4 linked regions of the Homo sapiens genome follow. The protein of the gene in region 4 purifies or fractionates together with the protein of the main gene of each other region. This does not show direct contact. Each region holds a gene or a part of one and is shown on either strand. Other genes may lie near its edges. The genes, in order: NDE1, ACAD11, ARFGEF1 and TCL1B.

The links.
Region 1: the proteins of TCL1B (region 4) and NDE1 purify together in Homo sapiens (affinity purification with mass spectrometry; 3 studies listed by BioGRID and IntAct, with this or other methods). This does not show direct contact.
Region 2: the proteins of TCL1B (region 4) and ACAD11 purify together in Homo sapiens (affinity purification with mass spectrometry; 3 studies listed by BioGRID and IntAct, with this or other methods). This does not show direct contact.
Region 3: the proteins of TCL1B (region 4) and ARFGEF1 purify together in Homo sapiens (affinity purification with mass spectrometry; 3 studies listed by BioGRID and IntAct, with this or other methods). This does not show direct contact.

The regions. Positions count from the first base shown.
Region 1 is NC_000016.10:15,667,242-15,674,269, reverse strand, and holds part of NDE1 (nuclear distribution protein nudE homolog 1), read right to left. Parts: intron 6,985-7,028; coding exon 6,831-6,984; intron 1,862-6,830; exon of another isoform or gene 1,499-1,861; intron 1-1,498. UniProt on the Homo sapiens protein: Required for centrosome duplication and formation and function of the mitotic spindle. Essential for the development of the cerebral cortex.
Region 2 is NC_000003.12:132,558,809-132,565,836, forward strand, and holds part of ACAD11 (acyl-CoA dehydrogenase family member 11), read right to left. Parts: intron 2,410-7,028; coding exon 2,293-2,409; intron 1,135-2,292; coding exon 1,025-1,134; intron 278-1,024; coding exon 163-277; 3' UTR 1-162. UniProt on the Homo sapiens protein: Acyl-CoA dehydrogenase, that exhibits maximal activity towards saturated C22-CoA.
Region 3 is NC_000008.11:67,221,774-67,228,801, forward strand, and holds part of ARFGEF1 (brefeldin A-inhibited guanine nucleotide-exchange protein 1), read right to left. Parts: intron 6,492-7,028; coding exon 6,451-6,491; intron 6,360-6,450; coding exon 6,190-6,359; intron 5,826-6,189; coding exon 5,674-5,825; intron 5,537-5,673; coding exon 5,364-5,536; intron 4,411-5,363; coding exon 4,250-4,410; intron 3,261-4,249; coding exon 3,130-3,260; exon of another isoform or gene 2,916-3,129; intron 1-2,915. UniProt on the Homo sapiens protein: Promotes guanine-nucleotide exchange on ARF1 and ARF3. Promotes the activation of ARF1/ARF3 through replacement of GDP with GTP. Involved in vesicular trafficking.
Region 4 is NC_000014.9:95,682,459-95,689,432, forward strand, and holds the start of TCL1B (T-cell leukemia/lymphoma protein 1B), read left to right. Parts: upstream 1-3,967; 5' UTR 3,968-4,009; coding exon 4,010-4,171; intron 4,172-6,974. UniProt on the Homo sapiens protein: Enhances the phosphorylation and activation of AKT1 and AKT2.

The sequences.
Region 1 (7,028 bases), on a different chromosome or scaffold from region 4:
CCATCTCAAAACAAACAAACAAAAACTAAGACAGAAGGGAGGGAGAAGATGGAGGAAGGGAAAGGGAGAGAAAAGGAGAGGAGAGAGACAGAGAGGGAGATCTTGTTAATTACCAAAGAAACAGTCCAGCGCACTTCTCAATGATTCCCTGTTGCCAGCTGCAGCAATAACATCCATTACATACTTATTCTGTGCTGGCCTCCAGGCTAAGTACACTTCCTATGTTGTCTCGTTTAATTCCACTTCAGAGACATGAACACTGAGACTCAATTACTTAACTAGCCCAGAATCAACCAGTAGCAAATGACTGGGCCAAGACCAAACCCCAGCCTCCTGAGCAGGTGTCCTTAAGCAATTATGCTAACCAGCCCTAAACCATCTCAATCCAGATCACCTGCCCGTTCCCGTGCTCTCTCGATTCTATTCCTGCTCTGCTTCCAAATTACTTTCCTTCACCAAACACCCAGAGCCAGGTGCGGTGCCTCATGCCGCAATCCCAGCACCTCAGGTGGCAGAGGCATATTAGCCTAGGCAACATAGGAAGACTCCATCTCTACAGAAAATTTAAGAACAGCCAGGCGTGGTGGCATGCACCTGCAGTCCTAGCTATGGGGGAGGCTGAGGTGGGAGGACTGCTTGAGGCCAGGAGGTTGAGGCTCCAGTAAACTATGATCATGCCACTGCACTCTAGCCCAGGCCAACGCTTAAAAAAAAAAAAAAAATCACCAGCCTGGGGCAACATGGCGAAACCAAAATACAAAAATTAGCCCGGCATAGTGGTGCACGGCTGTAGTTCCAGCTACTTGGGAGGCCAAGGCGGGCAGATCACTTGAGGTCAGGAGTTTGAGAACAGCCTGGCCAACACGGTGAAACCCCCGTCTCTACCAAAAATACAAAAAATAGCTGGGTGTGGTGGCAAGTGCCTATGGTCCCAGCTACCCGGGAGGCAGGGGAATCGCTTGAGCCCGGGAGGCGGAGGTTGCAGTGAGCCAAGATTGTGCCCCTGCACTCCAGCTTGGGTGACAGAGACCCCATCTCAAAAAAAAATCAAAACCGAAAACACAAAACACCCATCCTAGATTCTACAAACATAAGAGAAAACACTTCCCACAAGAAAGGCGCAAGGTCTAATTTAAAAGTTAAAAAAGGCCAACTTCTCTTTACTCAATCAAGTAAACAAAGCCGTTGCTAGAAAGTCCGGATGCACCCAGGGTGATGTAATGGTGCCTAGGCCAGAGAGGCGTGGCGAGAGCCATTGTGCAAGAAGACTCCAAAGAAAGAACAAACAGATGATTTACAGCGTTGGAAGGATGAGGAGGGCGGACCACATCCCTGCTGCCGCCCGCAGCACCCTCCCCATTTCCTGGCTGTAAGCAGAGAAGTATCTGCACCCAGCAAGTAGAGGCAGACCAGGCCCTGTTCCCAGGCGTGGCTCTCATCGCCTCACACCCTTTATTTGGGAACATCTCCAAATAAAACAGGATCTTAAGTCATTAACCTAAATTCAAACGCAGGCTCCAGGAGGACGCAGCGAGTGGGCTCCACCGACTGCACTGGCGATTGAGAGATCTCCTCGGAACCTGTGGACATGAAAACCTGTTGCTGAAATGTTGTGCTGCCATTTGGGGCTAATTCGAATAAGCTGTCAGCTGATGGGGGCATCAATAGATGCTCTGTTTGGTCCCTTAAAGGCTTTTTCATTCAACCCGTGATGAATAAGCCAGTTGTTAAGAAGTCCGGCCCAGCTGAATATATTTCTCTTAGGTGACTGACAAATACTTGCTGGTGGCAGGGTCCTCGTTATTCCAAGGTACCCTGTTTCTTCACTGTGCTGTGTGCTCTGAGTCTCCTGCATCTGACATGTGGCTGCAGTACAGTGGCGCAATCTCAGCTCACTGCAACCTCCACCTCCTAGGTTCAAGCAATTCTCCTGCCTCAGCCCCCGAGTAGCTGGGACTACAGGTGTGCGCCACCATGCCCAGCTAATTTTTTTATTTTTAGTAGAGACGGGGTTTCACCATGTTAGCGAGGACAGTCTCAATCTCTTGACCTCATGATCCGCCCGCCTCGGTCTCCCAAAGTGCTGGCATTACAGGCATCAGCCACCACGCCAGGCCCAAGAGCTCAGTCTTGAAGCAGAGAATTACTGAGTAATTCTCTTGATATTTTACTCAGGATCCATGGAGGGCCTGTTATCCTCTCCAAACTGCAGTTCATACCACTAATCTTCCTCCTACCCAGCTTTTCAACCCAGAGTCCCCTTCAATTTAGGAACTATAATCAGCCAGGCGCAGTGGCTCACACCTGTAATCCCAGCACTTTGAGAGGCCGAGGCAGGCGGATCACTTGAGCTCAGGAGTCCCAGACTAGCATGGGCACATGAACCCGTCTCTACAAAAAATAACAAAAATTAGCCAGGCGTGGTGTGGCAGGTGCCTGTAATCTCAGCTACTTGGGAGGCTGAGGTGGGAGGATCACTTAAGCCTGGAAGTCAGAGGTTGCAGTGAGCTGAGATCACACCACTGCACTCCAGCCTGGGTGACAGGGGGAGACTCTGTCTCCAACAGCAAAAACAACAACAACAAAAAGAACGATAATCATTGCTCATTGTGTGTAGCAGGTGTTCAGCTGTTAACAAATGGGTGAAGTGGGCCAAGTACAGGGAGAGGCAGATGACACTAAGGTCTCCGTGTCACGGATATGGGGATTGGGGGAAACTCAACAATGTGTGTTCTAAACAACCACTACTCAGGTTTTTTATTTTTTAACTTTTGCTCTGTCACCCAGGATGGAGTGCAATGGTACAATCATAGCTCACTGCAGCCTCAACCTCCTGGGCTCAAGCAATGCTCCTGCCTCAGCCTCTTGAGTAGCTTAGACTACAGGTGTGCACTACCATGTCCAATGAATTTTTTATTTTTATTTTTTTGTAGAGACAGAGTCTCGCTATGTTGCCCAGGCTGGCCTTGAACTCCTGGTCTCAAGCAATTCTCCCTCCTCAGCCTCTCAAAGGGCTGGGATTACAAGTATGAACCACCATGCCTGGCCAGAAATCCATCTTTTTACAGGAAGCTTTACAAATTTTGATGGATGGGGGAATATATATAATAAAAGGCAAGTAAGTAGGGGAAATATTATTGGTAGAGCCTAGGTGGTGGTGGATACACAGGTATTCACTGGAAATTCTTTCAGCCTTATATGCTGGAAAACGTTCATGGGGAAATGCTGAACAAAAACCCCTGAAGGCGATCAAACAACACCTATGGGGCAGATGGATCTGCAGACGGCCAGCTGCACTCTGTGGTCTCCAACAGAAAGCTTCAGCTTCAATGACCACCTTCAACGTGTCTGGGACCTCTCCTCCGCCCTGCCCCAAACCCCCAATCCATTTGTTGGTCCCACACCCTTTCCTATACATTAGTAAAGCTGGGCTTGCCAAGGTCCACCCGACACCCATTCTTGTCCACGTCTGTGATGGGTACAGATCAACTCTCCTTCAGCCCCATCTCCCCAAGCACCAAGTGTCAGCAACACATACACCTACAAACACCCTCCACACAGCCTCCCTCAACCCATGCAGTCCTTTCTTTTTCTTTCTTTTTTTTTTTTTTTGAGACAGAGTTTCGCTCTTGTTGCCCAAGCTAGAGTGCAATGGTGCAATCTCGGCTCACTGCAACCTCCGCCTCCCGGGTTCAAGTGATTCTCCTGCCTCAGCCTCCCAAGTAGCTGGGATTACAGGCACATACAACAACACCCAGCTAATTTTGTAGTTTTAGTAGAGACAGGGTTTTGTCATGTTGGTGAGGCTGGTCTCAAACTCCCAACCTCAGGTGATCTGCCCACCTCGGCCTCCTGAAGTGCTGGGATAACAGGCATGAGCCACCGCACCCAGCCAGTCCTTTTTCTCTTGAAAGGCCCCCACATCAGAGTTCTGTGACTGAGCTTCACGTCCCCAACTGCTTCATGGCATTAGGTTTGTCTTCCCAAAGAAGGCAACCAGCACTTCCCCTTTCACCGTCCATCATACCTAGCCCTGGGCACACACAGTTTTGACTCTTCCATGAAGCAGCTCATCAAAATGTACATTGGGAGTTTAATGAGAAAAAGAAAACCACACAGACATGCCAGGGCCCCACCCAGACTTACTGAGAAATGGAATCTCAGAGCAAGGCGGGGAGATGGGGATGGGGAGAGAGGGTTCAGGCCTGTCGGATGTTTATGAAGCTGGCCTAGTGATGCTGGCTGGCAGCTAAGGCTGAGAGCCAGTCTCTGGGGCACGGTGTTGACTTAGTGATCCCTTGCTGAGCCCTACAGCATGTACAGAAGGGATGGTTTTTACCTTGCAGAGCACTGGGTCTCCAGATACCTGGCTATGTCTAGAGGTGCTTTTGGTTTTCACCACCTTGGAGGTGCGGGGAATGCTACTGGCATCTAGAGGGTGGAGGCCAGGGATGCTGCCAAACATCCCACAGTGTGGTCAGGCGGGGTGACTCATGCTTGTAATCCCAGCACTTTGGGAGGCTGAGGCGGGCGGATCACCTGAGCTCAGGAGTTCGAGACCAGCCTGGCCAACATGGTGAAACCTCGTCCTTGCTAAAAATACAAAAATTAGCCGGGCGTGGTGGCTCACACCTGTAATCCCAGCACTTTGGGAGGCTAAGGCGGGTAGATCACACTGTCAAGAGATCAAGACCATCCTGGAAAACATGGTGAAACCCCATCTCTACTAAAAATACAAAAATTAGCCAGGCATGGCGGTGTGTGCCTGTAATCTCAGCTACTCAGGAGGCTGAGGCAGGAGAATCACTTGAACCCAGGAGGTGGAGGTTGCAGTGAGCCGGGATTACGCCACTGCACTCCAGCCTGGCAACAGAGTGAGACTGCGTCTCAAAAAAAAAAAAAAAAAAAATTAGCCAGGCGTGGTGGAGGGTGCCTGTAATCCCAGCTACTCAAGAGGCTGAGGCGGGACAATCACTTGAACCTGGGAGGCGGAGGTTGCAGTGAGGTGAGATTGTGCCACTGCACTCCAGCCTGGGCAACAGAGCAAGACTCCATCTCAAAAAAAAAACAGGCTGGGCACAGTGGCTCACGCCTGTATTCCCAGCACTTTGGGAGGCTGAGGCAGGCGGATCCTGAGGTCAGGAGATCAAGACCATCCTAGCTAACACGGTGAAACCCCGTTTCTACTAAAAATACAAAAAATTTAGCCAGGCGTGGTGGCAGGCGCCTGTAGTCCTAGCTACTCGGGAGGCTGAGGCAGGAGAATGGTGTGAACCTGGGAGGCGGAGCTTGCAGTGAGCCGAGATCGCGCTACTGCACTCCAGCCTGGGCAACAGAGCAAGACTCCATCTCAAAAATACAAAACAAACAAACAAAAAACCCACAAAGCAAACCTCAGTCCCTCCCAACGGAGGATGATCCGGGCTCCAATGTCAACAGCAGCCAGGTCGAGAAACCTGCTCTGAACTGGCAGAGTGCAACACACCTTTTGGTAATGAAGGAAATGGTCTGCAGCCCCTCTGTCCACTAAGGAAACTCACTGGCCACACGTGGCTCCTAAGCACTTGAAATGTGGCTACTGTGACTGAGGAATTAAGTTTTTATTTTAATTCATTAAATTTCAACAGCCAAATGTAGCTAAGGGCTACAATATTGGACCTGATGATATTACTCTAGCAACACCTCCATACCCTAAAAATGTCTCCCTGGCCAGGTGGTGGCTCATGCCTATAATCCCAGCAATTTGGGAGGCCAAGGCAGGAGGACTGCTCGCGTCCAGGAGTTCAAGACCAGCCTGGGCAACACAGCGAAACCCTGTCTCTATAAAAAATACAAAAACTAACCAGGCATGGTGCCGCATGCCTGTAGTCTCAGCTACTCCCGAGGTTCAGGTGGAAGGACTTTGGTTTTTTTTGAGACGGAGTCTCGCTCTGTTGCCAGGCTGGAGTGCAGTGGCACAATCTCAGCTCACTACAGCCTCCAACCATCAAGTGATTCTCCTGCCTCAGCCTCCCAAGTAAGCTGGGACTATAGGCGTGTACCACCACGCCCAGCTAATATTTGTAATTTTAGTAGAGACAGGGTTTCATCATGTTGGCCAGGATGGTCTCAATCTCTTGACCTCGTGATCTGCCCACCTCAGCCTCCCAAAGTGCTGGGATTACAGGTATGCACCACCTCGCCCGGCCCAGGTGAGAGGACTGCTTAAACCTGAGACGTCCAGGGTGCAGTGAGCTGTAATCCAGCCACTGTACTCCAGTCTGGGCAACAGAGCAAGACCCTGTTTCAAAAAAAAAAAAAAGTCTCCCTGCCATGTGCCCTATAAAATCAGTGTACACAACCAAGAAAGTCCACGGGAACATGTGTGTGACTTGCTTCTCAAAGCTCCACCCATCATGGATCCCGAGGTCAGGAGTTCGAGACCAGCCTGGCCAACATAAAACCCCGTCTCTACTACAAATACAAAAAAAATTAGCCAGGCGTGGTAGCAGGCGCCTATAATCCCAGCTACTCAGGAGGCTGAGGCAGGAGAATTACTTGAACCTGGGAGGTGGAGGTTGCAGTGAGCCAAGATCGCGCCACTGCCCTCCAGCCTGGGCAACAAGAGTGAAACTCCATCTCAAAAAAAAAAAAAAAACAAAACAAAAAGCACCACCCACTAGAGGCACAAAGAGTTCAAAGATCACGTCTGCCGCACAGGCCCTTCCAGAGATGAGCATGGGCCTGGGGTCTGGAGTCCCTCATTGCAGGGTTCCTTCTTCCAGCCAAGCATGCCATGCCTGTGTTGGACGCCTGTCTACACCTGAGCACACTTCCTCTCAGCCCCTCACCTTGATGGTTTCCAGCTCCATGCGAAGGCGGTTATTTTCGGACAGGAGGTCTCTGTTCCTGGTTTCAATTTGTTGCAGCTGCGTCTCCAATTCAGCTTCATATTCTCGGCTTCCCTCCTGGAATTCTCGGAGTTCCTCTTGCGTATTTTCTGCCCTACAGCAAAATTGTTAATCATCACGTAGTAATATTTTTGAAGA
Region 2 (7,028 bases), on a different chromosome or scaffold from region 4:
AATAAAACCCACTGATCAAAATAGATGCTATAATCTTTACCACAAATGAATAATTAACCCTGTGCTCAAACTGCTACAAAAATATGAGATTCAAATGTTGGAGCCAATGAAGTTTGTATAAAGGAGAGTTTCTGCCAGTGGGATGTGGCAGTGCCACCCTCCTTATATCTTGGCTGTCAGTCTTTTGGCTTGGTCCCGCAGCTCCATTGTTGCGATTGCTGAAAGATGAACTTCGTCAGGTCCATCTGCTAAACGCAAAACTCGGGTTATAGCATACCTGAAAAAGCAAAAGAATCAGGGAACACAGGGAGTTATGGAAGAGGAACATGATACTTTGACATCAGTCACTCTGATTGTCAACCAAGACTATATTAATTCTTAAATTCCACCAAGGTCAGGGTAAGAAAAAGGGTACCAGGAAAATAAGCTAAAGGGCTTCTGCAATGCCATCTTAAAGTTTCCAACTTGGGAAAGTTAAATGCCAAAGTACAGTGGAGTTCATCTCATTCTTGGTTTGCTACAGTTTACTACATGTTGCTAGAACTTAGAACAGGCAGTGACTGGTATGATACTATATATTTAGTTCTTTCTTAAGGTTTAAAATTGATGAAGGATGAGACTCTATCTCCATTGTGATAGAGAAGGTGACACTGTAATTATGTGTGGAGATGGACAGATGGGGAATGGAGAATGTTCCTTTCTGCCTCCCAGTCATCAGGATCTATATATTAGATAGTCACTGACATGTCCTGCTACAAATTCAGCGAAACCCCATGCTGTATCTACAGCCCAGGAATCCTCAGTGGGACCCCTCAGTGTAAAAATTAACATAATGGAATGAAATGATTATTGTAATAATAAGAGCAACTATTTCTTGGTGTTGAGCTCTATATTAATGTATATCACTTCATTTAGCCTTCAATTACACTGAAAATAAACATAAGCAATTAATGTCAAGGCATCTGTAGATTTTTTACCTCCACGCCTATCAAACGTAGATGATTCTTAAATGACATCTACTCACATGTTAGCCAGAGGGTAATCCTGGGAAACACCAGCACCTCCGCACACCTGGATGGCCCAGTCAACGATTTTGCTGACAGCCCGTGGGGCAGCCACTTTGATCATTGCAATCTATATAAGCAAAATATGAAAAGAATGCTTCTTTCTTAGACTATACACAATGTGGCAAAACTGGGAAATGAAACAAGGAAACTTTCCCACATCCAAGTCACCACTAAAACAGGATCTTTAACAAAAGCCAACAAAGAGATCCTGCTGCAATGCCATATTTCAGTCAATACAGACCCTCTGGAAAGAGACACCTCTTCCAAATCACATTTTATCCATTTATTTCTAACTTGTCTTGTTTCCAAAAGGATTTCAGGCAGCTGATAAATCACACTCATCACCTTAGGGATCATAAAAATAGTCCAAGGGTCTTTGCGCTATTAATCAGGTTTCTTTTAGCAGTTTTATGGGCTTTTAGAATTAAATGATTATGTCTTTATTTCATATAATCCAGAAACATAAGAAAGCAAAGGATGAGAGGTCTCTTTCATGAAACATTTACTATGTAGCAGTATCATGCTGTGCATTTTTTGTTTTGTTATTTGAGACAGGCTCTCACTCTGTCACCCAGAATAGAGTGGAGTGGCTATTCCCAGGTGTGATCATAGCTCACTACTGCTGCCTCAGAATCCTGGGCTCAAGCAATCCCCCTGCCTCAGCCTCCCTGGGACTACAGGTACAAGTTACCATGTCGGCTAATTTTTTTTTTAAGAGACAGGGTCTCACTATGTTGCCCAGGCTGGTCTCGAATCCCTGGCCTCAAACAATTCTCCCACCTCCACTTCCCAAGTAGCTTGGATTACAGGCGAGAGCCACTGTACGTGGCTTCTGCACATTCTATGTACATCATCTTGGTTACTCTTCACAACAACCCTAGGCCTTAGGCAGAAAAGTTAAGTACTTTGCCCGTGATCACAAGGCTAGAAGAAAGTGGCAGAGTGGGTGCAGTTCCAGGGCTGTGTAAAGCCTATGATTTCCCCCATTCCTTGTTGCTGTATCTTAAGAATGCTGAAGATATTCTCCCTCCTGAAAATCATTCCCTAAAGCACTTGCTAGGAGACTAGCAAGTGACAGGCATTTATAATTTATAACCCAAAATCACATGGGGGCTTCCAATATTCTGAGTGCCATCAAGATGCCATGAAAACTGAAATGTCCAACAGGTGAGAGAACTGGAGAAGGCTCAGCAGTTGGTGGTCTGAGGGGAGAAGGTAGCCTCACCTCTTTCTTAGCGCCAGCACTGCCCAGAGTGTCCATGCTGTGAGCAGCTTTCAGAGTCAACAAGCGGATCTTCTCAATGGCAATGCGGCTTTCAGCAATCCAGTGAGCCACAACCTCCTATAGGGGAGGAAAAGGCAGCAAAAGAAGGAGGAGCTAAGCTGGTATCTGATGTCCACGTGTAACACAGTCTTATAGTTTGGTGAAAACACTCTCTAAGCCAGAGATTGTTCACAAGCTTTACTCTATGTATTTTTAAATGGAAGAGTTAATTCATTTGATATACACCAGCCTAACCACATACTTGTGGAATGCTTACAGTTAAAATTGAAATATTTTAGAAAGAAATTTTATTTTCCCAGAAAAATCATTTATTTTGGATATCTTAATGTCTAAGGTAAAGATGGCTGAACTGAGCAACTGCCTTACCGCCAAACCACTCAAAGGCCCTCCTGAATGCTAATTGCCTGCTGTCATGGAAACTTGGCTAAATGTATGGTAGTGAAGCTGCTTACAGGTAAACTAGAAAATTCTCAGCACAATTTCAGTGTGGGGACAGTTCAGCAGCAATTTGCTGTGTTGTTATTGTTATTTATTCATTAAAAATGACCTTTTCTTTAGTAGACAGTTGAATTATAATACATGTATAGATTGGAATAACCACAGTCAAGAACACAGAACAGTTCCATCTCCCACAGAACTCCCTGGTGCTGCCCCTTTTTAGTCACAGGCTCCTCTCACTCCTAACTTCTGGCAACCATTGATAGGTTCTCCATCACTATAGTTTTGCCTTTTCCAGAATGTCATGTAAATAGAATCATATAGCATGTATTGTTTTGAGACCAACTTCTTTCATTCAGTTTAATGCCTTTGAGTTTCATCCAAATTGTTCTGTGTATTGACTGTTCATTCCTTTTTATTGCTGAGTAGTATTCCATTGTAAGTATGTATCAGTTGGTTTATCCATTTGCCTGTTGAAGGACATTTCGGTTGTTGCCAGTTTTTAAATTTTATTTATTTATTTTTTGAGACAGACTGGCTCTGTCGCCCAGGCTGGAGTGCAGTGGCGCCATCTCAGATCACTGCAACCTCCACCTTCTGGGTTCAAGCGATTCTCCTGCCTCAGCCTCTGAGTAGCTGGGACTACAGGCGCCCATCACCATGCCTGGCTAATTTTTGTATTTTTTAGTAGAGACAGGGTTTCACCATATTGGCCAGGCTGGTCTTGAACTCCTGACCTTGTGATCTGCCTGCCTCGGCCTCCCAAAGTGCTGGGATTACAGGCGTGAGCCATCGCGAGATTATTCATAGAGTTTCTGTGTATTTGTATACGGGTTTTTGTGTGGACATGTTTTCATTTTTTAAAGCAGATAGCAGGAGTAGAATTGTTGGGTCAGTGGTAAATGTTTATTAAGAAGCTGACAGTTTTCTAGAGTGGTTGTACATTTTGCATTCCTACTAGCAGTGTATGAGAGTTCCAGTTGCTCCTCAAACCATCAGCACTTAGTATCATATTTTATTTTAGTCATTTTAAGTGTGCAGAGATATCATGGTTTTAATTTGCATTTCTGTAATGGCTACTGCTGTTGATCCCCTTCAATGTACTGATTTGCCATCTCTATACCTCTTTGGTGATATGTCTGTTAAAGTCTTTTGTCCATTTTTTAATTGGGTTGTTTTCTTACTATTTGATTTAGAGAGTCCTTCATATATTCAGGACGCTAGTCATTTGCCACATGAGAAATCTGTCAATTCTTTCTTTTATGAGCCTTGCTTTTGGTGCATGTTTAGGAACATTTTACCTAATCCCAGAAAATGATTTTTCCACTATGTTTTCTTCTAAAAGTTTACAGCTTTACCTTTTACATTTAGATCTATGATCCATTTAGAGTTAAAATTTTGTGTGAGGTGTGTGGTTTAGATCAAGGGTCCCTCTTTTGCCTATCTATGTCCAATTGCTGCAACACCATTTACTGTAAAGATGTAACCTTTTCCATTGAACTGCCTTTGCACCTATGTAAAAAATTAATTGGCCTATATTTCTATGAATCTATTCCTGGACTCTCTCTTCTGCTCCAAAGATCTACATGCCTTTTGCTCACTGATTACTGTAGTTTAGAGTAAGTCTTAAGATTAGGTAGTGTGATTCACTGAGCTTTCTTCTTTTTCAAATTGTTTTGGCTACTTTAGTGTTTTTGTATTTCCATATAAATTTTAGGATCAGTCTGTCTTTATCTACAAAATTGTCCTTTTGGGACTGTGATTGGAACTGCCTTAAGTCTGCAGATCAATTTGAGGATGGTTAACATCTTTAATCTGTTAGTCTTCTAATCTACATATTTACTTAGGTCTCCTTTGATTTATTATATCACTTTTTTCTACTTTTTAGTGCATGTGGATATTGTACGTGTTTTGGTAGAGTAGTACTTAAAAAAAACTGTTGTAAATGGTATTTTAAAACTTTCAGTTCCCCCATTGTTCATTGCTTGTATATAAAAATAAAATTGTTACGTACTGACCTTGTATCCTGTGACTTTGCTAAACTCACTTATTAGTTCTGGGAGGGTTGTTTCGTTTTGTTTGATACGTTCCTTAGGATTTTCTATACAATCACATTGTCATCTACAAGCAGGCCCAGTTTTACTTCTTTTTTCCCCCAACTACATGCACTTTTTTTCTCTTGTTTTACTGCACTGCCTAGGAATTCTTCTATGATCATAAATTGGAATAGTGAGGGTGAACATTCTTGCCTCATTTCCAGTTTTGGGGGAAAAGCATTTAGTCTTTCATCATTAAGTATGATGTTAGATTTTTAAAAATACTCTCTATAAAGTTGAGTAAATTCCTTTGTATTCCCAGTTTGCTGAAAGTTTCTATCATAAACAGATGCTGAATTTTGTCAAATGCCAAAGCATCAATTGATATGATCATGTGATTTTTTTAATGTTCATGCAGTTTTTGCTGTTAGTTTGGCAGATTATAATAATTTATTTTTAATTATCGAGTTATAGACATGAATCAGGCTTGCATTTGTGGGATAAACCCTACTTGATTATGCTGTATGATTATTTTTACATACTGCCAGATTCTATTCGGTAATACTTTGCTGGTGGTTTTTGCATCTATATTGGTCTATGGTTTGTTCTTGTCTGGTTTTGGATTAGGATGATTCTGGCCTCATAAAATGAGTTGACAAGTGTTTCCTCCTTCTCTATTTCTGGAATAGATATGTAAAATTGGTGTTACTTCTTCTCTAACTGTTTAGTAGAATTTACCAGTAATACCATCTGGGCCTGAAGATTTCTTTTTTCAGCAGCTTTTTAACTTTGAATTCAACTTCTAACAATAGTTGTAGAACTATTCAGGTTATCTACTTCATCTTCGGTGAGTTTTGATAGTTCATGGGATTTGAGGAATTGGTCTACTTCATCTAAATTGTTAACTTTATGTGCTTTGTACACATACTAGAGCGTGTGGGTCCCAAGTCCTAGATCTGGAATGGAGGAGACTCTACTTCAGCCTTGGCTCCAGACCCCATTCTCCAATCCATGTTTTCCCAGAGAGCTCTGCATTGTGGCTTACAGACAGCCTACACAGACTAAGAAAATAAGTATGTCTGATATCCTCTGCTTCTAACAAGGATGGAATCGATATATTTTTCTCTATTCCTTCTGTTAAGTACAACTAATAACCCTGGGCATTATCTATAAAACAAACATAAGAAGACTCTGAAAGGTAGAGAAAAGGCAGACTATTTAGGGACTTCAGGTCCAAAAGAATAACCTAGTGGTGTGTTTCCTAGGTTTTCTTTTTGCCTCATATATCTCAGCTGCTGAGGTTCTTCCCGGCAGCTGAAGAATCTAGTAACCTGGAAATGTCAGTGAGCACAGACCAAAACAAAACAAAAACATAAAGCACCCCAACAAAAGTATAATCTCTCTAACCAAAGGATCAGGAAAGATGCAGCCTAGCAAGCCAAAAATCTTTTAGAGAATAACCACTTTACTCCAGCCAAACACCACAGAAAAAACATTGGCCCCCACCACTCCTCACACCAGCAAAGGCAGGATGGGGAGCGTAGGCTTCCACCCTGGCAAGCACTGTAATGAGGTGCCCCAGCTCCCCTGCCAGGAAGGTATCAGACAGTGCCAAGTAAAAACCTGAGGCTTTCCTCCCCACTGGCCAGTAATAAGTCCCCCCAACCCATCTTATGGGTTGTTAGTGCAGTCCAAATGGGATGCCTGGACTTTCATCCCACCTGGCAGTATGAGGGCATCATCCTCTTCAGGTACTGATGGAAGCTGGGAGGGGAACCTGGACTTCTCTCTCTGCCTAGCAGTAATGAGGTGATGCCACTCCTTTCTCTGACAGAATGGTGTCAAAGAAAGCCAAGAAGGTTTAAAAAGGTCCAGAGTCTCACAGTATAAAACTGTTCAGGTTTCAATTTTATAAATCACCCATAATACCAAAAACCTGGAACAATTCAAAATTAATTTTTAAAAAATAAAGAGACACCGTGATATAGTTTGGATGCTTGTCTCCTCCAAATCGCATATTGAAACATGAAGGTGGAACCTAGTGGGAGGGTCATGGGGGAATATCCCTCATAAATGGTTTTATGCCTTCTCTTCAGTAATGAGTTCACATGAGATCTGATTGTTTAAAAGAGTCTGGGATGTCCCCCCTTATCTCTCGTTCCCTCTGTTGCCACGTGATGTGCTGGCTCCCCCTTTACCTTC
Region 3 (7,028 bases), on a different chromosome or scaffold from region 4:
TGGTAAGTGCCCTATATGGGTTTTTGTTGTTGCTTTTTTTTTTCTTTCTTTTTTTTTTGAGATGGAGTCTTGCTCTGTCGCCCAGGCTGGAGTGCAGTGGCATGATCTCTGCTCACTGCAAGCTCCACCTCCCAGGTTCAAGCCATTTTCCTGCCTCAGCCTCCCAAGTAGCTGGGACTACAGGTGCCCACCACCACGCCCGGCTAATTTTTGGTATTTTTAGTAGAGACGGGGTTTCACTGTGTTAGCCAGGATGGTCTCGATCTCCTTTCCTCGTGATCCGCCCACCTTGGCCTCCCAAAGTGCTGGGATTACAGGCGTGAGCCACCATGCATGCCCAGCCTACAGGTTTTATCTTTTATGCCATGTTTTTACTGTACCTTTTCCATGCATATATATATATATACACATATATATATATATATATATATACACACACATATATATATATGTATATGTATGTATGTATGTATGTATGTATGTATGTATGTATGTATTTTTTTTTTTTTTGAGACAGAGTCTTATACTGTCACCCTGGCTGGAGTGCAGTGGTGCCATCTTGGCTCACTGCAACCTCCGCCTCCTGGGTTCAAACAATTCTCATGCCTCACCTTCCCAAGTAGCTGGGATTACAGGTGTGCACCACCACACCCGGCTAATTTTTGTATTTGTATTTTTTAATTTTTATTTTTATTTTGAGACAGAGTCTCACTCTGTTGCCTGGGCTGGAGTAGAGTGGCACTCTCAGCTCACTGCAACCTCTACCTCCCAGGTTCAAGCGATTCTCCTGCCTCAGCCTCCTAAGTAGCTGCGATTACAGGTGCGCACCACCACGCCTCGCTAATTTTTGTATTTTTAGTAGAGAAGGGGTTTCACCACGTTGTCCAGGATGGTCTTGAACTCCTGACCTCAGATGATCCGCCCACCTGGGCCTCCCAAAGTGCTGGGATTATAGGTATGGCCACCATGCCTGGCCAAATTTTTGTATTTTTAGTAGAGATGGGGTTTCACCAGGTTGGCCAGGCTGGTCTCAAACTCCTGACATCAGGTGATCTGCCCACCTTGGCCTCCCAAAATGCTGAGATTACAGGCGTGAGCCACTGCACCCAGCCTGTTTAGATATGTTTAGATACACAAACACCACCGTATTAACAGCTGCCTACAGTACAGTAACATGCTGTGCAGGTTGTACCCAAGGAGCAATAGGCTATGCCATCTAGATTTGTGTAAGTACATGCTATGATGTTCACACAATGCTGAAATTGCCTACTAATGCATTGCAGAGAACATACTCCTGTCATTAAATGATGCCTGACTATATTTGGGACTTTAATTTTCGGTATTTATCCCCAAATCTAGAGAATTTTGGAAGAATTAAGTAAGAATGCACACAAGAAATTCTTTCTACACAGTGTTATACCAATTATAGTGCTGCACTATTTGTTGTTGTTAAAGACAGAGAGTCTCAATTTGTTGCCTAGGCTGGAGTACAGTGGTGTGATCAGGGCTCACCATAGCCCCAACCTCCTGTGCTTAGGCAATCCCGCCTCAGCCTCATGAGCAGCAGGAACTAGAGGCATGACCACCATGCCTAGTTAACTTTTTGTTCAAAGAGATGGGGTCTCACTATGTTGCCTAGGTTGGTTTCAAACAATCCTCCCACCTTGACATCCCAAAGTGCTGGGATTACAGATGTGAGCCATGGCATCCGGCCCACATTTTAAGATGGAAGCTAAATAGCAACCCATACATATCCTGGGATGAGGTAGGAAAATCAAAGGCCATCACTGAACAAAGTTTACTGATCTTTTCTCTCTCCTTTACTAACTAGAACACACACAACCTCTTTAACAACTGGAATCTACCCATAATCTGAACATGGAATATGGTGAGAAATAAGGTATCACAGTGCCAAGCAACAGAAGGCTAAGAAAGCAGGTGGATCCTCCATCAAACAGACTTCTACAAATAAATAAAGGGTGAGGGGAGAGGGTGCTGAGTTTTCATGACCTGCTAGTCATGATATGTCAGCCGCTCCACTGAGGCAGGTGGACAGCTGAAATGGGGCTATCTTGAATTTTAACAAGTTCCTAACAGGTCCACTGATAAACAATCCACCATGTCTAAATATAAAATAAAATGTTTTTCTATAGTGCTCTCATAATTAAAATCCCTAAGGGTTAAGTCCTATTTTGATTATCTATTTCATACGAATTTCTGTTGTAACAAATAATACTATAAAAATGAAAAATTTCTTGGGATATAAGTCAAATTTAACCTTGGTGGGGGATGGGGGTGGTTCTGGCATAAGGTGAGAAAAGAGAGATTCATTCTGTGCTACCTTTAGAAATTCAAAAAATTCGATAAAGTTACACATCCAAATAACAGAAGATTCTTCCAAATAAGATGGAAAGATTCCTAAAAGATTTTGTTTACCATAAAATTGAACTCACGGTGGGTTTAGAGGTTGACAGATATTAGGACACACAAGCTGGCCATTTCAATGTGGCAAAGTACAGGGTAAAAAAACTACTATGGGAATCATGTGAGCCGTGACCTAAGAACAGTGTGTTAGCATTTGGCCAGTTACATAATACCCATAATAGTTCCTTTACAGATTGACTATATGTTCATAATGATCTTTTATTGGCAATATACTTTTGAAAGAGTTCTATTTGAATAGCTCTATATTATTCCAAACTATGTTACTGACCAGGTTACAAAAAGAAATGGTTCTTCACCTAAAACCCAGCAAGGATGTGCAGTTAAAAATTCTTCTATCATTCATCAGGAAATAAAATAAATTTTGCCACTAACTTCAACTTATTATTGGAAACAAATATATGAAAAGACGGAATGTTTAAAGGATTAAATTAACTTAGAAGCTAAAATCAAATGGAGGCTATAATCAAATATTTTAAAAATAATGTAGTATTTCCATTTTTATTTTGCTCTAGTTAATATTTTTAAATCATATTAACATATTTTAAAATATACCTAATAATTAATATATTTGACAAAACACTTGATTTTATGGTCTTTAACTGTGAGATTGTGTTTATAAAGAAGAGTTAATTTGATTAAAGTCAAAATAAATCCAAAATTTTAATTACAAATATAGATTGTTACCTGGTTCTTACATCTAATTTGCATCTATTGATGATACAGGATAACTCAAAGAGAATTGGGAACCATCCTCTCACCCACACCCTGTCTTCAGGTGCTACGTTCATATCATCGCTTGTGTATTCCTTGAAAGCCTTCAAGAAAAAAGGTAGGGTTATTAAAGGCAAAACATAACACCCATACATTCAGTATACTAACTTCTCAAAAAATAATTTAAATGCTTCACAAATAACCAGTGAGCAATTTAATAAAAAATAATTTATAAAAAATGGACACTATAACTGCCTACAATTTTAGTATATGTGCCACTGAAATAGGCAAAACATAACTGCCTATAAAGAGCTCTGGACTAGAATCCAAAAGTTAGCTTCACTTTCAACTGTCACCAGCTTTCTGCATTATTAGCCAGGTTAATTCAGGTTTCCATTTTTATCACTTAAATGGTTATGATACCAGACAGCCACATTAACCACACTGGTGAAGTATGAAGGTGAAATGAGTTGACGTATCTAAAAAGTACCAAGCACCTGATCGGTCCATGGTAGTACGGAATAAAATCTTATTACCAAATCTACGATACATCACTTTCTCTTATGACAGTTACAAAGATAGATTCAAATATACAAGTTAAATATGGCAGCTAGATTTTCAATTCAACCTTTTACTTTAGAGCTTAAGCCTATTCTCATCCATAGTCAGTCAGCTTCAGTATTACACAGCACAGACAGACAAGATGCACTGTAGGGAATGGTTAGAAACACAGGCTGGGGCTCAAACCCTAGTTCTACTTTACTAGCCCTGAAACTATGGGCACATTTTAAAATTTCTCTGTGCCTCAGTTTCTTTGTCTGTATGGGGCTATAACACTATCTACCCCATAAAGCCATTAGAAGATTAAACAAGTTAATACAAGTTAATGAAAAACACTCAGAAAAATACCTGACACTTTCAATAATGGTTAGTTATAATCACTAACCATCCTAACTTGGAATCAGGCTGCTCAGATTATTTTTCAAATTACTGAAAAATAAATGCTTCATATACCCTCAATTCCCAAACAAACTTAAGATTTCAAATTGGAAAGAATACTCTGCAAAATTTTGTTTACTAAATGACGCTATACCTGAGGTCTATCAGACACATATTTTGCACAATGGCGAATAAGTCGAATTGCTTCCATACTTGTGTCTGGGAAAGCTGCATTGCACGCAAATTCAGACAAACACTTCACTGCATCCTGGAAAGAATCAATGGTCGCTGGAAAGTGTTTTTCAAATACAAGGGCTAAAATAGAGAAAAATATATATTACTATAATTTTTCAATTATTCTTAGCTGTACCAAAAATACACCAACATCTAGATGTAATGCACTTCCTCTTAAAGGTTGTTACAGGTTCTGACATCCAACAGATACGAAGTTCAAGACTATCTTTACCACTTAACTGACTGCCCTGAGTGGTGAGAATAGTAAAACTTGTCTGTTTTGTTTACATTATAAACATAGCACCTAATACAGTGACTGGTACACGGTAGGTACTGATTCAACTTTGGTTGAATGAATATACAAAATTACTTAACCTCTCTGTATCTCGGTTTCTTGATATAAAATGGAAATAATAATAATATACACAGATAGCTGTAAGCACTACGTAAAATAATATAAGTGAAGTGCTTAGTGTAATACTTAAGCAAGCACGCAATAAATGATAGCTATGATGATGCCATGATTCTTGATGTTGATGGTCATCATTGTCATCTTCCATATAGGCTTAACTTATAATCTTAGTATTTCAGTCAGTCCCCCTTGAACTTAAGGGGACTCCTCCTTGAAGAAGGCTGTGCAATGTACTTACTGGTCAAAAATAAAGGCTTTGCTTTAATACTCCATGGGTCTCAAGACCATCTCCATCACTAGTTCTGTGACCTTACATAGACTGCTTAACCTTTCTGGGGCTGAGTTTCCTAATCTATTTTGAAAAAAGGGATGGACAATAATGTTTAACTGTGAAGATTAAAGAAATTACGTGAAAAGTGCACACAGTATTTGCCATATGGTAAATACTCAATAAATGTTAACTATAATAGTAATTTAATTGTTTTTATTTACTCTGGTTCTGTAGACAAAGCTTGGTAAACTTAAAGGCCATAATCTTATTGTTACTTGAATCATCTTCTGAACACGTTAAGGTTGCTTTTTTTTTTTCCTTTTACTTGAACACAGCTAAGAGAATACTCACTGACAATGTGCCCGGTTGTTTGGAATGCAAGTTCCACTATGCTTTCATCTTGATCAGATGCAGCTAGATGAAATACAGAGAAAATGTTCTTCCATCCAGATCGAATGTTAGCAGCTTGAGAATTAACCATCTGTGCTATACACCGTACAACCATATCTCGAATTGTTGGAGACCTAAAAATATTAATATAATTGCTTGGATATGCAAACCGATAAAACTCATCAGTTTTTCCCCCTTTCTTCTGTTTTTCTCCCTGCTGTGGAAAACAACAAGATTTTCCTTCTATTAAGCAATTCAACAAATATAGTACCTGTTCCGTTTCATTATATGTTCAAAAGGTCTTAAGAAATCCTTCTGGAATCTGAAGTTAGCAAGCTCCCCTTTCTCTAAGAACTTCATTGACAACTGCCTCAAGGAGTCTACTGCAAAAATAGCTACATCTTCATTAGGATTACACCCAACCTGTAATGGCGACAGAAATAAACGATGCTAATTAATATCAGCAGTAAAAATCTACAATTCTTTATTTTTTGTTTTAGAAAAAGTATAGAATAGCATAGATAGGTAAATCCTAAGATTTTCCATAAAGGCATTAAGTATGCTAAAACTATTTCTCAACAAGAAAAACAGATATTTTAAATCAAATTCTTAAAGCCCAGAGCAATCATTTCTAAAAAGAAAAACACCATTCACAGGGTTTTCTAATTTAATATTAAAAAGTAATAAATAATTGCTTGGAAGGGAAAAAGGCTCAATTTGATTACAAGGACATTCTAAACAAAAAATATACTACAAATGTAAACAAACACCATAGTTATTCAAATACCTTATTAAAATGATCTCCAATAACTTCCCAAATTCGAGACCACTGTAATCTTATTCTTCCCATGTTGTAATATGATATTTCTACTATTTTTTGTAGACTAAACATTCTTGGGTGTGTCGTGGAAAGTAATTCATCCATAGACACAGCACAGAGCCAACGGACAAAATCCACTGTAATATAAATACATTTTTTTTTTAGCTCAACATTAAAGTTATTTTAGCCCCAAGCCAGTTCCGAAGTAGAATAAATGCCCATACTTACCAATGGCATTTCCATCTAGCCTTGTAGATCCTGTGAATATTCTAGGGAAAATAAAACACAATTTAAAAAATTTATAAGTTACTGTTCTTATTCCAATTGAAAAGTATGTGGCATGGGGTACTAGCTATTTTTATGTTTTAAGGGAACAAAAAATTGGGTATTCAAATGAGTATTTTTCATCATTTAGTTTAGTAACAAGTGTAGTCTGGATGTTTCTCCCTCCCCTCCACCTCTACTCCATGTGAACCAGTTTACATTCAATATTATTATTAGGGTAAGTATATACTGCTGTAATTTTATCAGATTTACAAACCCCGGATAGATATGAGATTCTAAGAATAAGAAAAATATTAATTTGTAAAACTAATAATTGGCACACTACAGATTCTTTCCTGATTATTGTCTAGCATTAAGCAAGTTCTTAAAATGAAAAATTTGACGTATTTTTACCAGTAAAGTATATTTGATTAGAAAGTTCATTTACACTAAAAGTGACTTAATATAACCTTGCAAATAGTCTCAGTTTACCCAAGAATTGGCCAAACCACTTTCCTTAGGGCATTCAAATGTTTGGAGTT
Region 4 (6,974 bases):
GAAGCTCAGAGAGGAAAAAAAAGGAAACAAAACAAGAACAGAGCATAGAGAGCACGGTACACTTGTTTAAAGGGTCTGACAATGTGTAATTGGAGTCACTGAAAGAGAGGGAAAGGGAGGAAAAGAAAGGATGAGACGGGAATAGTTGAAGATACAATGGCTAAGACATTTCCTCAAATAGTGGATAAACTATTAGAGTTAAGTCAATTTATCTAGGTCTTAGATATAGTGTCAATGCACACAAACCAGTTGCATTTTTTTATAACAGCAACAAACATAATACATAATTTGAAATGACATTTAAAATAGCATCAATCAAATACTTAAGAGTTAATTTAATGAAATCAGAGAGAACAGTTAAAGACAACCCAAAATATGGAAGGATACACTATGCAATTGCTTCGGATCGTAAGTCTTAATATGTTGGAGATGTTAATTCTCTTCAAATATACCTATAGATTCAACACAATCCCAATCAATCTTAGCAGGCTTTTGGAGGTGGGGAGGATTAACAAGCTGATTTTAAAATGCATATGGATATGTAAAGGGAAGAGAATAGCTATATTAGGGTTCTCCAGAGAAACAGAATCTTACAATAAGATATAAAGACCTATTTTAAAGCTATAGTAATTAGCAATGTGGTATCAACACAAGGAGAGACAAACAGACTAATGGAATAGAAAAGTGTCCAGAAACAGACTCATACATAAATGTTCCCAGATTTATGACAGAAGTGATAATACCGTACAGTAGACAAAGCATAGTCTTTTAAATAATTGGCATTAATTGGATATCAACATGGAAAAATTAATCTAAATAAAATCTTTAGAAGAAAATAGTGTACATAAGCAAAACTTTCCTAAACCCTCATTCTTCAGTTCCGTGGTTGGGTTGACTTTCTTTTACCACTTTGCAAGTTTGCTCTGCTCACTGTCTGAAATAAGCAGAGCTGGAACTTGGATGTTCTTGTTTTTGTTATTATCTGCACAATCCCCATCCAGTCTTTTCTCTAGTAGTCATGATCTACTTGATACTAAGCCACTCTTTGGTTTTATCATTAGTTCTAACATTAAGTGCATACTTATGTCACTCCTTGTCTCAAACACTCATTGCTCATCATTCAAAACCAGCTGCTGGGACTGGCGTGTTTGATGCTTACAATGGAGCATCAATACCACCCCTGCCCCCACCACCACCACATTCTTATTCTTTATCATATGAGCTTGGATAATCCTCATTATTCCTGATCTCCAGACACACCCTGAATTACCTCTCCTCCAGGTCTACTCATGCTGCTTACTCGGTGGGACAACTTTGCCAGTTCCATCTAAACCATGCCCTGTCTAGGCTGTCTGCCTTTGGCATCTTGTCTGCCCTGCCATTTTGGCCCAGTACCTAGGAGGAGCTGAACAGAAATGTGCAGAGGTATCAGTGACTCTTACCCAGCCTTCCAAGCCCTGCACAGCGCCTCCTTGTTTGTGGTCTGGAATCCTTCCGGCAAGTGGGTGTCCAGCCTCAACGTCCCCAGGGCTTGGGGCTTGTGAAGGGCTCCCTCTGCTGGAGGAGGAGAGCATTGGGCCCAGGCATGAGTGCACCATCAGTACCAGGCAATCCTGGGAGCAATTCTGGAGAGATCAAAGTGGTTCTCAAAGACATTGGTGACACCTACCCCGGAGAGTGAATCCTTCAGGTCACAGGTACCAGAGATGGACAACTTGGCCAGAAGACATAGCCTTATCTCACTTATCTCAGACATGACATGGACAAAGACCAGCTGAAGGACCAGGAACCAAACTGTTGTCACCTGCAGCTCCGTGGCTTTTTTCATACCAGGTCCAAGGGTTGAGGGATGGGAGACCTGGCCAAAGAGGGTGATCGGTGAAGCAATCTATTTTCCACCTTGAGGCTAACTGGTAGTTATTTCTTTCTGCCTATGGAGACCTCTGCTTACCTTCTGACCACCCACTCATGGCAAGGTGTTCTCAGTCTCCATCTTCAGACCCCACCACCATTTCTACAGTAGCCACTGTGGATCTCCCTACTCCAGGTTCTGCCTCTTCCATGTAATGAGCCAAACTTGGCCAAGGCAGTCAACAAGCAGCATGCATGTTAGAGCCAGGAACAGCTGGGTCCATATCCTTCCTCTGCTACCCACTTCATTCAGGTTGCTAAGCCACTCAAGCCTCTGATACTTCATCTATGAAATGGGGGTGACGGTCTCTAGTTTATGGAGTTGTTGGGAGGTGTTAGTGAGATACCCTATGAAAAATGCCTGACATGGCATAGGGGCTCCCCACATATTAGGCAACCTTTACCTCCAACCCCACTGACAGCCACACACCTGCCCATCAGGGAGTGAGGTTGAGAATATCAAAATATATATTTGCAACAGAAAATGATAGAGATAAATAGCAATTGCATTGGGGTTACAAGGGTAGGAATGATGGATTCTGCCTGGGAGAGGGAACTAGTCTGAGAACATAACTATTGACCAGGGTATTTCAAGTATTCACTATGTGTCAGGCTTTAACACTATACACACAGCCTCATCTGATCCTCAGAGGAGTCCCATAGGGTAGGTACCTACAGCAAACAGGCTTCAGGGGGGCCCAGGAGACCAGGGGTCCCCATGATCCCTGCCTCCTGGTATTCATAACCTTGAGTAAGGATAGGACCTACCCCTGACCAATGGAATATGGCAAAGGTGACACACGTACGTGATTCCATGTATGGATCACATTATATGAGACTGTGATGTCCCTTGTCTTCCTGGCCCACTCCATTCCCACCCCAAGTGTTGGTTCCTTGGAAAAACACTGGGGATGGAGGTGGAATTGCTGTGAAAACAAGACTCAGTCCTCCACAGAAGCTGCCCAGGGAGTTCTTCAAAAGTGGTTATCCTACCTGCCATTTACACTGGATCAGGACTGTCCAGAAATCATTTTCACATCTCCCCAGCAGAATGGCATCATCTCAATACTAATCTTCACTTGAACTAGAAGAATCATGCTTGTGGTTTTCAAAAGGAAAAGGTTCCTATTCATGGTGCATTTAGAAGCAGCCCAGGGTGCTTATAGAACGGACCTGCTTCTTGCTATGTTCTTGAGCTTCTGAGGCCTCTTGACAAAGTCGAGCAAGTAAGACGACCAGGCCAAGTGGGCACTCTGGGCCCCATGGCCAAGGATGGGCTGGCCAGGTGGCCACGTGGCCTCCGGTGGCCTTGTTTCTGTGGGCTTTATCTGATCCTGAGCTCAGATGCTGATAGTGCACTGGCTTATTTTCTAAGGAGAGGGAGCTTGATTTGTGCAGGATGCGCCTTCACCAGATACCTCCAGGGGCAAGAGTCCACTGAGGTTACAGCGCCCCCCGCCCCCCATGCCTCTAAGCTCTAAGCTCAGAGAAGGGTCCCTGACACAGAGTCCTGTTAAAGGAATGGCCACAGGGATAGGAGAGACCAGGGTCGTGCATGCCAGCTCAGGATCTGGGGCAGGATGGTTGGCAGGGGGTCGTGGGGAGCAAAGGAGGGGAATCACCTGACAGAAAATTGGGCAGGGGTGCTCAGGGAGGAGGCTGCGGAGGGACTGGGACCAGTGGAAGGGAGGTGGAATAGGTCTTAGGAGCCAAATTCCTTGCAGAGGCCTGGGGTGAAGCCTGGGCAGCTCTATCCCCGGGAGCCGCCCTTTTGCCTCCAGCAGCTGCCGGTCCAGCCACAGCCCCTCCAGGAGACCCAGGCCGGGTTCCTAACTCCGCTGCTCTTTGGCCTCGTCCCTGCCTAGCCCCTGCTGCAGGTTGCTTTTTTCCCCCCTCCTCCTCCTCCCTCCTCCCTCCTCCCTCCTCCCCCTTCCTCCTCCTCCCCCTCCTCCCCCGACTGGCCCCGCCCCCACTGCCGGCCCCGCCCCCACTGCCGGCCCGGGCCCCACCCACGCCGGAGCTGCTCCATTTAAGGAGATTGCGCAGCTGGAAAGCTACACGTGTGAGCCTAGAGGCGGGTCCCGGTTGCAGACTTGCCATGGCCTCCGAAGCTTCTGTGCGTCTAGGGGTGCCCCCTGGCCGTCTGTGGATCCAGAGGCCTGGCATCTACGAAGATGAGGAGGGGAGAACCTGGGTGACTGTGGTCGTGCGGTTCAATCCCTCGCGTAGGGAATGGGCCAGGGCCTCCCAGGGCAGCAGAGTGAGTCCTGGGCACGAGGGGAGGCTGTGGGGAGGGCTGCGCACTGACCCCTGCCCGTGTGGGACCGCGGTGGGGGTCAGAGGGGGCCGTTCTCACCCGCACTGGAAAACTCACTTCTGTGCAGGTCTAGGAGCGCAGCAATGTCCATGCCCAGCCCTGGCCCCAGGAACACCCCCCGTAAAGGGACCACAGGCACAAGCTTATCCACATGAGATAATGTGGTCCTGCGTGGTGAAGCCGAGGCTAAGGTAGCTCAGGGCTTAGTGCCATTCCCAGTGCCTGCTGGGAAGGCCCACAAATGGGGCAGCTATTGAGCTGGGCTTTGTGGGATGAGTAGGAGTTCTCCAGGTCTAGAAAGGAGGCAGGAGTAGTATAAGCAAAAGCATTGCAGCCTGGAGGCACCAGGTGGGCCAACAGGATGAACATGACATTGGTGTCAGATTACTGATCTGCAAAATGAGAATAATATACCTCTGTGGCAAGCTAGTCACAGACATGCTCACATACATGGCTCACCGCCTGAATGGCCTGGGGAAGCATTTGACTGATAACAGATTCTGGAAATTAATTCAGGAGGCTTGGGTGGAGTCCTAGATTCTTTACTTTTCAAAAGCTCCCCAGGTGATAATGATAATGACTCAGGAAACGGCTGTAGATGAGGGCTTTAGATCACAGCCAGTCTTTGAGGGATGAAGTAAATACAGTAGCGTTTCTGGTGTGGGTGGCGGTGGGGAATTGATTCCAGGACCGACTGTGGATGCTCAAGTCCCTGATAGAAAATGACCTGGGTAGTAATTACATATAACCTCAGCGCATCCTCTACTATATTTGAAATCAGATTACTAATAACACCTAATGCTACACCTACACATCACTTCAAGCTCTGCTTTTGGGAACTTTGTGGAATTTCTTTTTTTCCCAAAATATTTTTAATCTGAGGTTAGTCGAATTCATGGGTGCAGTATCCATGGAAATGGGGGGCTGGCTGTACCTTAGTGTAATGTGGTAAAAGCATATCCGGATATTTAAAATGCCATTTAGGGCTGGGCGCGGTGGCTCACGCCTGTAATCCCAGCACTTTGGGAGGCCGAGATGGGCTTATCACGAGATCAGGAGATCGAGACCATCCTAGCCAACATGGGGAAACCCCGTCTCTACTAAAAATACAAAAAATTAGCCGGGCGTGGTGGTGGACGCCTGTAGTCCCAGCTACTCGGGAGGCTGAGGCAGGAGAATGGCGTGAACCCGGGAGGCGAAGCTTGTAGTGAGCCGAGATCGCACCACTGCACTCCAGCCTGGGTGACAGAGTGAGACTCCGTCCCAAAAAAAAAAAAAAAAAATGCCGTTTAGGTCTTCGTAAACAATTCACTGCCTGTTTGTTTGTTTTTTGAGAAAGTCTTGCTCTGTTGCGGCTGGAGTGCACTGGTGTGATGTTGGCTCACTGCAACCTCCACCTCCCAGGCTCAAGTGATTCTCATGCCTCAGCCTCCCGAGTAGCTTGGATTACAGGCGATTTTTTTTTACAGTTAATTTTTTTTGTTATTTTCAGGAGAGACAAAGTTTAATCATGTGGGCCAGGCTGGTTTTGAACTCCTGACCTCAAGTGATCTGCCCACCTTGGCCTCCCAAAGTGCTGGGATTACAGGTGAGCCACCTCGCCCAGCCAGTTCACTGACACTTTAAACAATATAACACATTTCCTAAAAAAAGTTCAAATAGGTTATTTCAAAAAATGTTGGTAGAGAACATGGAAAGGCTTTTCTGTACATACACTAAATAAAGCATGCAAAAATTGTGGAGCAAATATTTTAAGTTTTTCAAAAGCCTGAAAAAGTGTTAATGGAGGGCACTGTAAAATGGTGCAGCCACTATGGAAAACAGGATGAGGATTTCTCAAAGAAAGAATTACGGCATAATCCAGCAATGCCGCTTCTGGATATATACCCACAAGACTCTGAAGCCGGAACTTAAGCATGTATTCATACATCCATGTTCACAGCAGTATCATTCATACTAGCCAAAAGGTGGTGGCAGCCCCAGTGTCCATTGATAGATGAATGGGTAAACAACACAAACCATGAAGTATTCACCCTTAAAAGTCAGACACACGGATGAAACTTGGAGCCATTATACTAAATGAAATATGCCAGTCACGGAAGGACAGATTCTCTTGTATGAGGTACTCAGAGTGGTCTCATTCATAAAGTGGAATGGTAGCTGCCAGGGGCTGGAGGGAGTCGAGGATGGGAAGTTAATGTTAGTAACAGGTACGGAGTCTCAGTTTGGGAAGATAAAAAGTTCTGGAGGTGGATAGTGCCGACGGTTCCACATGTCAATGCACTTAATGCCACCAAACTGTACTCTTAAAAACAGTTGGCCGGGTGCGGTGGCTCACGCCTGTAATCCCAGCACTTTGGGGGGCCGAGGCGGGCGGATCACAAGGTCAGGAGATCGAGACCATCCTGGCTAACACGGTGAAACCCCGTCTCTACTAAAAATACAAAAAAATTAGCCGGGTGCGGTGGCAGGCGTCTGTAGTCCCAGCTACTCGGGGGGCTGAGGCAGGAGAATGGCTTGAACCTGGGAGGCAGAGCTTGCAGTGAGCTGAGATCCAGCCACTGCACTCCAGCCTGGGCGACAGAGCAAGACTCCGTCTCAAACAAAACAAAGCAAAACAAAAAAAACAGTTAAGATTTTTTTTTTTTTTAAATGATTCAGTGGAAATAGAATGGATTCTTCAAATAACTTAGCCACGGGTGGGATAAGGGACCTACTTAGTAAGTATTTTTTCCCCTTCTTTCTT